Linked DNA regions of Homo sapiens. The protein of the gene in region 1 binds, or shares a complex with, the protein of each later gene. Each region holds a gene or a part of one and is shown on either strand. Other genes may lie near its edges. The genes, in order: SPINK1 and PRSS1. A codon is read from its position in the direction of its gene.

Region 1 (4,862 bases):
GTGGGGAGATGTAGTAGAATAAAGTACTTAAGAGCTAAAGCTCAGGAACTCTGACTAGGTTTGAATTCTGAATTTAGGAATTCCTTAGCTGGGTGGCCTTGGCTAATTTTATTGCTTTGTGCCTCATTATCTTCACCTGAAGAAGAATATAATACTTAGTTCACAGGATAGTTAGGAGGTTTAAACAGAATAATATATAAAAAGCACTAGAACAATGTCTAGGACAATGACAATCATTTGATGATTATAAACTCTTACTGGAGTAGAATGCAAAGACTTCCAACACCCGACAATGCCTAGTGCCTTTAAGTGCCTAATAGAAGACCAGTGTGTGTGGACTACAGTGTACAAGGAAGAACGTGCCCCAAGATGTGGCCAACCTGAGAGATGCCAGCACCCGCAGTAATTGCAAACTTGAACATTATCTCACCCATCCATGTAAATCTCACAACAACACTATGAGATAGGTGGGAAATGGTAATATCATCACTGTTTTGCAGATGAACTGACTGAGTTTCAGAAGGGCCATAGGACTTACTAATGTCACACAGCTTAGAAATAGCAGAGGCATGACTTAAAACAAGGTTTTCTGTCTCCAGATAGTAGGTTATTTCTCTTACAACACACAGTATCATTCTCCCAATCACAGTTATTCCCCAGAGAAATAAAACCATTTCAGAGATTTTGCTATGAACTCAAGAATGGAGAATAATGGGAAATGATTCTGTTTAATTCCATTTTTAGGCCAAATGTTACAATGAACTTAATGGATGCACCAAGATATATGACCCTGTCTGTGGGACTGATGGAAATACTTATCCCAATGAATGCGTGTTATGTTTTGAAAATCGGTGAGTACAAACTTGAGTTTCTTTTAAACTATATATTTTAAGTTAGTTATCTTCAAGTGTACTGATAATATGAATCTCACCCCGAGAAAAGCAAACTATTTACTTTTTCCAAAAACAGTTATCTCTTTCTTATTCTCCCTTTTATATATTTAGCATTAAATATTATTTTTTAGAAGTCACTTGTATGATAAAAGCCTATATTTTTTACAGCAAAATAGTCGATAGCTTGGATTTTTATAAAGTACACACAAAATACCTTTAATTAAAAAAATTATTAGTGGTTGCAATGATTGTGTTTTTTAAAGCCCTCAGTTATGCAAATATAAATTGTATAGATTATATAACCAAAAATATATTTTTACTTATGGATATGAAAGCCAGTTTCAGTAAAGCTTCATTTCCTCAGTGACCATAAGTAGGTGATGTGATACAGAGAAATAGATTCAACACAGATTTCCTATCTCACTCAGCAACTGAAACCTTAGCATGTCTCAAGCATCATGCTAATATTCCCTGTCTTACTTGTGCTTATGACTAAGAAAACATCATGAGCATGTATAGGATGGCTTCTTATAACTTGGGGCAAATGCCAGAAGATGAGGTGTAAATAAAGTGCAACAGGAGTGAAGCAGAGATACATATTTTTTATTAAAAGGGGCCAAGAAAGGATCCATGAAAAGAATAGAATGCCAGCCGGGTGCAGTGGCTCACTCCTGTAATCCCAGCACTTTGGGAGGCCGATGCAGGTGGATCACCTGAGACCAGCCTGGCCAACATGGTGAAACCCCATGGTGGCGGGCGCCTATAATACCAGCTACTCAGGAGGCTGAGGCAGAAGAATCGCTTCAATCTGGGAGGCAGAGGTTGCAGTGAGCTGAGATTGTGCCACTGCACTCCAACCTGGGTGACAAGAGTGAGACTCCATCTTAAAAAAAAGGAAAAAAAAAGAATAGAATGCCATTTAAATAGAGTTCTGAATTTTGGCAATATCAAAAGAGCATGCCAGGTTAAATAAAGGTGTGGAATGAACAAAGCAAATAAAAGGGATTCCACGAGTGACTTTAGTTTTTCTGAGATTGACTTGATATTAAAGACTTTGACTCAGGCTCAAATGACTGTGTAAATTTCCATTATATTCTACTGCATAAATTCCCTTTTCTGTAATGCAAACCTTCTTCTTGGGCTGTTTTAAACCATTTTGGAAAATTCTCAGAGTTTAGCAAGTATTGTGGAAATAGGACCTCTGGATGAGAGGTCTAATATCCTGAAGTTTTAGACCCAAAACATTAGGTATTCTACTTTGTAATAAATCTGTTTCCATAATTAAGACTTGTAAAAAGAATTTGAAGCCACCTGTTAGTTTTCTCATGACCCATGTTCTTGACATTAAGCTCAAACATCATATTTCCATCCAATGGGAGGAGAAAGCAAGAGAACAACAGCTTTGAGACTTGGGAAATTTCCAAGTGCCGCTCAACATTTACAGTGAAACATTAGAAAAATATTAGTAGAGGGCTGGAACACCCTATCTGCTTAGCCTCTGAAACCTCCGAGTTTCTGCTTATTCTTTCTATTTGTTCAAAACTATGTAAATATGGGAGGCACATTTGTATGCTAGAAAACATGACCTCTCTTCCTATATTTCTCAGATAAGAAAATTTAGGTCTAGAGACAAAATGTTGCTTTCTCAAATACAACATATTTCCTAATGTATGACATTGCCTTTTTCACTGTTGATTAAAAGTCCCAAACTTATTACCTAGTAACTAAAGCCAGACGCTGACCCTAGTTTGAGACAAGTAGATAATACCAAACAAGGGCTTGCAAATCAGTCTTTTTGGTGATTATGTGCTTGGCAAATATATTCAATAAACACTTTTTCTATTCCTTCTACGTCTTCAAAGGGAATCTGTACCGGCAAATTCTTTTCCATAAACCTGCATCTCCAATAGAACCTTCTATAATGATGGAAATGTTCTATGTTTATGCTGTCTAATACATAGCCACTAGCCACAAAACAGTAGCCTTAATGTGGCTAACACTAACTTAAATGTGGCTAGTAAAACTGATCAGCTGAATATTTAATATTATCTAAACTAATTTACATTTACATAGCTATATGTGGATAGTGAATATATGAAACTAGAGTGAACAGCATAGCAACTCTTGTTTATTCTGTTTAGGTGTGTGTGCTTATGTATGCTAACTGATTTGGAAATCAGTATTAATGAGCAGTTAATGATTGTGGGACAAGAAAGCATTAAAAAATCTTAAAGAGTTTGGCTGGGCATGGTGGCTCATGCCTGTAATCCCAGCACTTTGGAAGTCCCAGGCAGGTGGATCACTTTTGTTAGGAGTTTGAGACCAGCCTGGCCAACATGGTAAAACCCCGTCTCTACTAAAAATACAAATATTAGCCAGGCATGGTGGCATTCACCTGTAATCCCAGCTACTTGGGAGGCTGAGGCAGGAGAATCACTTGAACCCGGGAGGTGGAGGCTGCAGTGAGCCAAGGTCACACCACTGCACTCCAGCCTGGGCAACAGAGTGAGACTCTGTCTTAAAAAAAGAAAAAAAAGAAAAAAAGAAAAGAAAAAAAAAAGAAAAAAAAGTATATGGAAGTCAGATGTCCTTCAGTAATAGAGAAGTAGAAGAATTTTTGTAAGCCCGTACATTCAAAGAAAAAATGGTTAGAAAAATTAAAGACCTGGAAACAGTCTTCTAGGGAACAATTATAAAATTTAGAGATATTTAGTTTAGGGAAGAGAAAACTAGTTTGGTAATGGTAGTGTGGGGCGAACAGAGAGGTTTTATCTGGAGGGGAGGATGTTTAGAACTGGCAGGAATCATGTGGAATAAATATGTGATTTACTTTTGTGAGACCTCACAGATACGAATCCCCAGAGCTCTAAGATGAAAGGTCAATCAATTAGAAGGTCCAACAATAGCTCAGGCATCAGCTGAGATGGAAACCTGGTGGCGAAGGCAGAGGCATCAGGAGCAAAAGATGCAACAATAGTTTTGAGTTTAATTTCAGGGGTTCACTGTAACACCCCACGAGATCTGTAAAAACTGTAAGGACAGATATTTTTCCTTTCTGTTGTATCCTTAGTGTATTCAACAGTAATCAATAAATATTTGATGAATTAATGACTAAGTGAATGTATAAATGAATGAAAGACAGAGAAAAGATTATAAATCTCAAACCTCTCCAACTTTAAATGAAGCTGTTATTTTTCCCCCTGTTTTTCTCCCATAGTCACTTTTTCATCAGTGAAGTTTAAGCTGATATATTTTTTTTAATCTCTACTGCAGGAAACGCCAGACTTCTATCCTCATTCAAAAATCTGGGCCTTGCTGAGAACCAAGGTTTTGAAATCCCATCAGGTCACCGCGAGGCCTGACTGGCCTTATTGTTGAATAAATGTATCTGAATATCCCCTGTTGTTTCCATTTGCTTTTTCCTCAAAGGTATGTTTGATTATACCAGGGTCAGGGGACTTTGGTAAGACTGAGAATAGACCAAGTTTTAAAAACATCAGGAATCCTGTAATTTCAGACAGGGTTTCCCTCATAATTCCTTTTCTTTCCTCATCTTTCTCACATCCTGAGGTCACTGCCTTAGAAAATGTGATTGCAGATATTAAATGGCAGAGCACAGATGATCATGAATACAAGAAATTCTTTGAGGACTGGACTACTATTTTAAGGAACAATTGGAAAATACCCAGTCCAGAAACATGTTACCCATCACAGTCTGCTGATTGCAATAACTCCTTTAGGTTTCCTTGGGATTTGATTGAGCATCTATTGTGGCTGGCACAGGTCTACGTGCATGGGCATAGAGCTGCCTATATGGTGGAATAGAGTTTAGTCTTTGAGATTTTCCACTTATCTCAGAATGTAGATTTTGGGTCAGACATAATTGTCTCAAAAAGATTTGAATCATTGAGAAAACAAACAAAAAAAGTACATTTTCTTAACAAGGCTATGGAGCAGCTTCTGGACTTA
Region 2 (7,662 bases), on another chromosome or scaffold:
CACTCCAGGAATTCAATAAATATTTGTGAGTAAATAAATACATTTCAAAGATAAGAGGAAAATTTATACAGCTGCAGTGGATTTCCCTGGTGGAAAACTCTACAAAGGCATTTGAGTTTAGATAATCTAAGCCCATAAGAAAATTAACTAGATTATTCTAACAGGAAAGGAATAAGCACTTCAAACTTTATATTTTTTATTCTTGTTTTAAATTTATGTTTTAGTTGCGGGGAGGATACAAAAAGATTAAAGGACACAAAATTACAGCTAGATAGGAGGAATAAGTTCCAGTGTTTTACAGAACTGTAGGAGGACTACAGATAACAAGCATTGTATTTGAATAGAAAGGTCCATATGTCATGTGCCAACCCCGTTCTGCTGCCTTACCCAAGACTGGGAAATGGAACAGATGATATGGGTTCTATAGAGAGGCAAAGTGCAGAACCTGCTCAAACACAGTGGCCCTGGGGTGGAAAGTTCTCAATTGGAATTGTGTTGGTGCCTGTGTGGATGGAGCATTCAATTCTGAGCCTTAGGAGCCTTTTGAAGGCCCTCCTGGCCAAGATGATCTTGAGGAAATGACTGACCCATTGGCTGCCTTCCAAATGGATGACACAGTCTAGACTTTTATAAACTACATGAGTAGAAGGAACCCAGTTGACTGGATTTATCACCAAACCTAGCTTGTGAGCCTCAGTCTAGAGCTAGCATAATTTAGAAAAATAAATGCATACATCATATATTAAACTCTGAGTATCATGAAACAGATCCTAGATGTTACAATAATAAGAACCTACATGGGTGTTTCTCCTGCACTCTGTCCTGGCTTTCTTCTGCTTCTTGTCTAAGGGAGCCTGGACTCACTTAAGCAGCTCTAATAGGCCAAACAAGAGAGTGGTCAAGGAGTGGCTGAAATGTGAACAGAAAGACTCACCATTATATTAGAGCAATCAATCTATCCTTAAAATACTGTGGGTTTAGTGTCAAGTGCTAGAGGCTTCCCCATTTACCCATACATGGAAGCCTGAAGAATAAACAGAACTATAAACTTCCCTCTGGGCATAAAACTTGCATGTCTTCCATGGCTTCAAGCTGGGGAGCAGCTGGGCAGGCAGAAGGAGGGGCAAGAGGCAGTCAAGAGGAGGGGCGGGAGGCAGGCGGGGAGGAATGGGCTACTCCGTTTAGCTGATCAGCCTTGACCAGTTCATGCTCTGGGACTCCATCTTACAAGTCAGACTTTTCCGAGTCACACAGAGCACTCCCTTCACTCTCCAGATTCAATGATTCCTGGGATGATATAGTAACGAAAATAATTCCTTATTGGATAAAGAGAAATTGTGCTGTGCGGGAGATAAGTAGCTTAGAAAAAAAAATGGATGAGGAGAGGAGCTGGGAGTTTGGGGGTAAGACAGCCTAAAATCTGACAGTCTGGTTGGGGAACGATAAAAGATACTGGAACCCAAGGAGGAGATCAGTAAGAATGTAGGAGAAAGATCTGGTGGGATTTGGAGAAGAAAGTGTTAAAAAATAAAATTGGAATATGACAGTTTGCAGACTACTAGGTCTGAAAGACGCAACTCTGTAGCAACATGAAGGGGAACAAACTTTGTCTGAATAGGGAAGTTTCTAGTATGATCTCTGCTTTCCTTAGACAAGTAACCCTGGAGAAGACACTTGACCTCTGAGCTTTAGATTGTTCATCTGTAAAAAGGAGAGAACAATATCTGCTGCCTACCACCTCAGTGAGGCTGCACTAAGGATCAGCTCAGAGGAGGCAAAGCAGAATGCCCTATTGCACAGCATGGAGGCCCTAGAGTCGGACCACCATACTTACATCCCATCTTTAAAACCTCCTGGCTGTGTGGCCTTGAGCAAGCCACTTCACCTCCAGAAAGTTCATTTGATCATCTGTAAAATGGGCAATCCCATAGGTGGTTGTGATGATAAAATGAAAAAAACATTTTTAACTTACATGAGTTACATGCTGTAGAGTAAGTTATGTGGTATATAGTAAGCACACAGAAAAGACTCACTGTTATCAAAATTAAAGGAAAGTGGTTTAGTGTGCTAAGCACTAAATACAAGCCAGAGAGATGTCTTGAGAAGTAGACAAAGAAATCTACAATTCAGAATGAACAGTAACAAGAATGACATGTCCTCCAAATTGAGCTTTGGCAGCTGGATCTGAACCTATCCTACACATCTGAGTCTACAGTATGAGGTAACAGTCTCCACCTATAGCTATCTTCTCTGCCTGTAAGGTCATTCCTTTCTGAAGAAAGCTGACCTCAGACTATTTTGCGATCATTTAAGGAAGAGCGCAAAATACTGGAGAAGGCTAGTCTTCAAGCTCTAGATACAGAAAATCCTCAAATTCTTGGGTGTTCCCTTTCAGACTGAGAGTCAGAGCCACAAGCACTGATCCAAAAATCCCCTTTTCCAAAAAAATTTTCCATCTTCTACCAAGGTTCACCTCCCTGTTTAGTGCACACTAGTATCTACAGTTGTTAGAGCAGGAGTCTCTCCTTATCCTCTAAGGCAGGTGTTCTGTGAAGACCCCATGACAAGGGACAAAATGAAACAACATGTTCAGGGACAACAAAGGAAAAGCCCATTTTATCAATGCTCCAAAACCTGGCTACCTCAGGCTTGGCAAGTTATTCGTGAGCAGAGAAGTTTGTCATCTACATGGCAGTCATGGCCTGGATGGGTCTCGAACTGTGGCATGGTAATGCTCTGAGACTAGGTGCCAGGAGAAAGATAAATTCAATCATCCATTTCTACCAGGAAGAAAAGCACCAGGAAGGAATCAGATGTACAGTTTGTCCTCTAGGGACCTCTGTCTTGATCCTCAATAAATCTCCTTTTAGATACCTCCTCTTAGATGAAATTCCCACACTTCACAATGCTCTCCATGGCTTCTGTTGGCCTTATGGTCAGCTCTGCCAAGATCTGTATTCTTGGGCAAGACAGAATCCTTCTGAATCTCAGTCTCTTGCTCTATAAATGGAAACAATTTTGCTCTGCACAAATTACAATTAGCATGTTTGTGGGAAGTTAAAGTGTGAAACTCAGCATAAATGAAAAGTAATGTACCACTGTTGCTTACATGAAAACTCTTGTAAAGTTGTCAGGCACTGTGCACCATCTAAGCATAGCAGTGTTAGGTATGGGCCCATTAGTGATTAGAGGGGGTGCGAGGCGGAGAGGGGGTCTCCAAGCAGTGGGTCTCCTGGCTGTGGGGAAGCTGGCTCAGCAGCCATACCAGGAGCTGAAACCGAAGGTACTCTGTGTGTCCTCTCAACACCATGGGCCCCACTTTGGCATTATTTCCAATTCCCTCTGGTTTCCATTTGCTTCCTCCCTCTAGCCCCCTGGCCAGGTCCGATTTCAACACCAAGTTTCTGAGCTTTTCCCATTTTGTCCACCGTCTCTAGAACATTTCTGCTTCTTTTACCTTTCAAAGAATCCAAACTTGAACTCTACTTACTCCTGCCCATCACCAGCCTGAGCTCAGAGTTGCTGAGAAGGGAAAGCACCCTCATAAGGAAGCTCCTCCTTTCCCTACATCATTAGACTTGAGCACAGACAGCATCTCCATTTCCACACTGCTCTGGCCAGGTTGTGCCTCAGTCAATTACACAACTGTGTCTTAGTAGCCTTGGTAGGGCCCAAATCAGGATATTCTCTAGGAAGATTCACTTTGTACTGAGCCAAGCATAATCTCACTGCATCGAAAATAGAAAATGATCATCTGATCATTCTGGTTCAGACTGTCAGCCCTGAGCAGGTGGGTCAGTTTGCATCACCTGAGTGCAGATTGCAAGGACAACAGTGAGGCTGCATAAAAAGAACCTATGACAGGATGCACATGAGAGAGACAAATGTCTTCACATTGAAGAAGGGGAGGAGTGCGCCATTGGTTTTCCATCCTCCAGAGGCACTGAGAAAGCTCCTACAGAAACTGTGCCCCCTCCTTCTTTGAAACACTTCCCATCCTTAAGCCTTGGTAGGAAGGAGAGAAATCTGGAAGCCCAGAATCCTATGGAATGCTGAGTCTCCCTTCTCCTTACCCCTTAGTGTTGGAATTTTCATTCCCCAAAATCTTGCATTTGACCTTCCTGCACACTGACTGGAGAGAAGCATCTTCATATTCACAGGAATGAGCCTTAGATAAGACTTTGCTCCTCTCATGTGGGCCCCAGGAAACTGAAATCCAAGCTTTTTACCAATGCTTGCCCTTCCTTAAGTACATTAAATACATTCCCAATAGGTGGAAAGATTTGTAAACAGCTAGGCCATTCTCCCTCCTTCTAACCCTCATCTCCAGGGCCTAAGAAAGCCCAGCTCTGTTATCTGGGGCTTGACTTTCCCTGTCTTCCCCATCCCAGTATCCTTGCAGGAAACAGCCGGTCTCGCTCTCTGCTCTCAGAAGGAAAGTTTCCTTATCACCTGTGAATCACAAACCCAGAGAGTGGCCAAACATAGCCAGGCTGATGCAAGACCCTGGGAAGAGGAAAGCTGCAGGTGTGTTTGTGCTGGGAGGAGTGGTGACCCTCACCTCACAGTCACCTCCTCTCTGGATCCTCGTGAGGTATAAAGACGAGTCCTCCACCACCAGTCAGGCACACTCTACCACCATGAATCCACTCCTGATCCTTACCTTTGTGGCAGCTGCTCGTGAGTATCATGCCCTGCCTCAGGCCCCAACCACCCCCCCGTTCCTGGCCGACAAATGCCCTTCCATTCTTACCACCTCTCCTCTTTTGACTGTGCTCTGATATTCCGTTTCCTCCATCTGGCATATCTCCTTCCCATCCTCCTTGGGCTCTTTTTAAGTCTCACCTGTTCACCTTCTCCTTGACTTCACTCCCACCACTGTCATTCATCCATATCCGAGTTGTGGTTGGAGAAGCTGGGAAGGGGGCCAGGTGGGGCTGTCCCACGAAATGAAGCAGCAGGCTTCAGGCTTGGCTCCAACAGCAACAGAATAGCACCACTATAGCTGCTCCTAACCTCGAATGCACCTGGGGAGGTTGAAAAATTACTCATGCCAGAGACTCAGCTCTAGAAATTCTAACTTCAATTGTCTGGGGTAGAGCTTGTGTTCTGGGCTTTTAAGCTTCCCAGGTGATTTTTAATATTTCCAGCCATGCAGCCAAGGTTAAGAATTGCTGTCCTATTGGCCAATAACAAAGTCTACCTTTGTTCTGCCAAAGTGAGCCTGGGGGCTGCCCTCAACTCTGCCCTGACTGCACAGATCTGAGCTATGGGGGAAGGTGGTCATGGCCAGGTCTATGCAGACAGGGGGTTTTCCTAGCTTGGCAAAAGAATCCTGACAATCCAGGGCCCAAATAGCCAGGGGAAGTACACAGGTGATGAATAAAAGAGAGAAGCACTCAGTGGGAGAGACAACCACATCCCAACTCCTATCCCACTGGAAGCATTGTGAGGACATTCCTTGCGACTTCAGCCTGGTGACCCCAGGAGAGCTCGGATCCTCCGCAGGGTACCTAGCTATGTGCCCTGCAGGCACAGAGACTTGGGAGCCACAGGCAGTGATGATCACCAGGGGTGGCAGAGCTCCCTCCCTTGCCTAGCCTCACTGTGCTTGTTAAGGATTTCTAATTAGCAGAAAGCAATCACAGGCTGGGAGCGCCACCCCTAACATGCTATTGACTTGCCTTCTCCCTTCCCATCTCCACTCCAGTTGCTGCCCCCTTTGATGATGATGACAAGATCGTTGGGGGCTACAACTGTGAGGAGAATTCTGTCCCCTACCAGGTGTCCCTGAATTCTGGCTACCACTTCTGTGGTGGCTCCCTCATCAACGAACAGTGGGTGGTATCAGCAGGCCACTGCTACAAGTCGTAAGTGTGGGGCCCCCGACTGCAAAGCTCCCGGCCAGTCTGCCTGGGAGAGCTTGGCTTCAGCCCAGGGAACTACTGAGGTTGGGTAAGATGGATGGGAGAGGTGGTGGAGAAGAAAACTTGTTGGCAGCTGCGGACTCTCCAGAGCAGAGAGTGAACACAAGACAGGAACCTCTCACACCCAGGCAAATCCATGAAACAGCAAGGGTTGTGGTCATAAAAGCAGGCAGGGATGATCTTGGGGTGGTGAGAGCTAGTGAGAAAAGCAGGCAAGTATCTTTTGCTGGTTAGCTACACATTAAAGCCAACTAAGAAAGACTTTTTAAAAATACAGATGCCTTTGTCCTATCCCAGGGCAATTAAGTCAAAATTTTCAGGAAGAGGGTGTGAATATCAGTGAGAATTTTACACTCTACCTCTGCTAACTGTAGAGTGTATAGACAGAGCTGAGAACTGCTGCCTACACCAAGAACTCTCAAACCTGAGTATGCATCAGAACGCCCTGCAGGCTTGTTAAGGCACAAATCACTGGGCCCCTTCCCCAAGGTTCTGATCAGTAGGTGGGGGTAAGGACCAAGAATTCACATTTCTAACAAGTTCCCAGGAGATGCTAATGCTATGGCTACCCTTGGATTAGATTACACAGAAGGGTGGTTCTCACCAGGCCAAGAATGGAGGGAGGAACAGGCACTGTGCACAGTTGGCAAAGGCCTGGGGTGAAGAACGCTGGGAAAACTTCAAGGAGCTCCTTGTGCCCACAGTGCTAGTGACTGTGGAGATTGTGGGAAAGAGTCTGGGGAGGCAGGTTGAGGAGCAGCCTCTGGTGGGATCCCTTTGACTCTTCCCCACCCCACTACCACCAACCTCTGGAGCAGATAGGTCCTGGGTCTCATACCTTCACTGACCCACATCCCTCTGCTGCCCATGCGATATGGCCACACACCCCACCCCATGCCTCCAGAGCTGTCCATGAGCAGAGAGCTTGAGGAACCTGGGGAAGGTGGGATAGGTGCCCTGGCTGTGGGAGAAGGTCTTCACCATGCCTGCCCTGCCCATCAGCCGCATCCAGGTGAGACTGGGAGAGCACAACATCGAAGTCCTGGAGGGGAATGAGCAGTTCATCAATGCAGCCAAGATCATCCGCCACCCCCAATACGACAGGAAGACTCTGAACAATGACATCATGTTAATCAAGCTCTCCTCACGTGCAGTAATCAACGCCCGCGTGTCCACCATCTCTCTGCCCACCGCCCCTCCAGCCACTGGCACGAAGTGCCTCATCTCTGGCTGGGGCAACACTGCGAGCTCTGGCGGTGAGTGGGACCCTTAGTCCTTCTACTTCCCTCCATCCTCACAATTTCCAGAACAAACCATGCCCCTTAACTTGAATCCTCTCACCTCCAGGCTTAAGACACATTTCGAGTGCCCATTACACACAGACTCTGCACTGGGCACCAGAGAGATGCAAACTATCAAGGACTTGGCTCCTAAAATCAAGAGACAGGACAAATGGAGAACTTGATATGATCACATCTTGGGAGGGGTTCAACAATGATCATTCTGGGAACTAAAAGCCAGAGTCTCTTGCCAGGACTTATGTTCTGGAGTCCTCTCCAGGGGCTGTGTTCCTCTTCAGTTTTCCATCCAAGATTATTGTCTCCTTCTCTGGCCTGACCCACATTTCTACTTCCTTTGATCTCTTCCTGATCCTCACAGCCGACTACCCAGACGAGCTGCAGTGCCTGGATGCTCCTGTGCTGAGCCAGGCTAAGTGTGAAGCCTCCTACCCTGG

Evidence for each region.
Region 2: the proteins of SPINK1 (region 1) and PRSS1 are in contact, whole or in part, in a crystal structure (PDB 7QE9), measured with the Homo sapiens proteins. Residues at the interface, in NP_001341895.1 of Homo sapiens: Tyr33, Glu35, Leu36, Asn37, Gly38, Cys39, Thr40, Lys41, Ile42, Tyr43, Asp44, Pro45, Pro55, Asn56, Val59, Phe62; in NP_002760.1 of Homo sapiens: Tyr45 (codon at 5,803), His46 (codon at 5,806), Phe47 (codon at 5,809), Cys48 (codon at 5,812), His63 (codon at 5,857), Cys64 (codon at 5,860), Lys66 (codon at 5,866), Arg101 (codon at 7,030), Lys102 (codon at 7,033), Thr103 (codon at 7,036), Leu104 (codon at 7,039), Tyr154 (codon at 7,592), Tyr175, Lys178, Asp194, Ser195, Cys196, Gln197, Gly198, Asp199, Val214, Ser215, Trp216, Gly217, Asp218, Gly219, Gly227.

What each region holds. Positions count from the first base shown.
Region 1 is NC_000005.10:147,824,011-147,828,872, reverse strand, and holds the end of SPINK1 (serine protease inhibitor Kazal-type 1 precursor), read left to right. Parts: intron 1-744; coding exon 745-851; intron 852-4,166; coding exon 4,167-4,212; 3' UTR 4,213-4,291; downstream 4,292-4,862. UniProt on the Homo sapiens protein: Serine protease inhibitor which exhibits anti-trypsin activity. In the pancreas, protects against trypsin-catalyzed premature activation of zymogens.
Region 2 is NC_000007.14:142,744,845-142,752,506, forward strand, and holds the start of PRSS1 (serine protease 1 preproprotein), read left to right. Parts: upstream 1-4,627; 5' UTR 4,628-4,640; coding exon 4,641-4,680; intron 4,681-5,710; coding exon 5,711-5,870; intron 5,871-6,929; coding exon 6,930-7,183; intron 7,184-7,586; coding exon 7,587-7,662. UniProt on the Homo sapiens protein: Has activity against the synthetic substrates Boc-Phe-Ser-Arg-Mec, Boc-Leu-Thr-Arg-Mec, Boc-Gln-Ala-Arg-Mec and Boc-Val-Pro-Arg-Mec. The single-chain form is more active than the two-chain form against all of these substrates.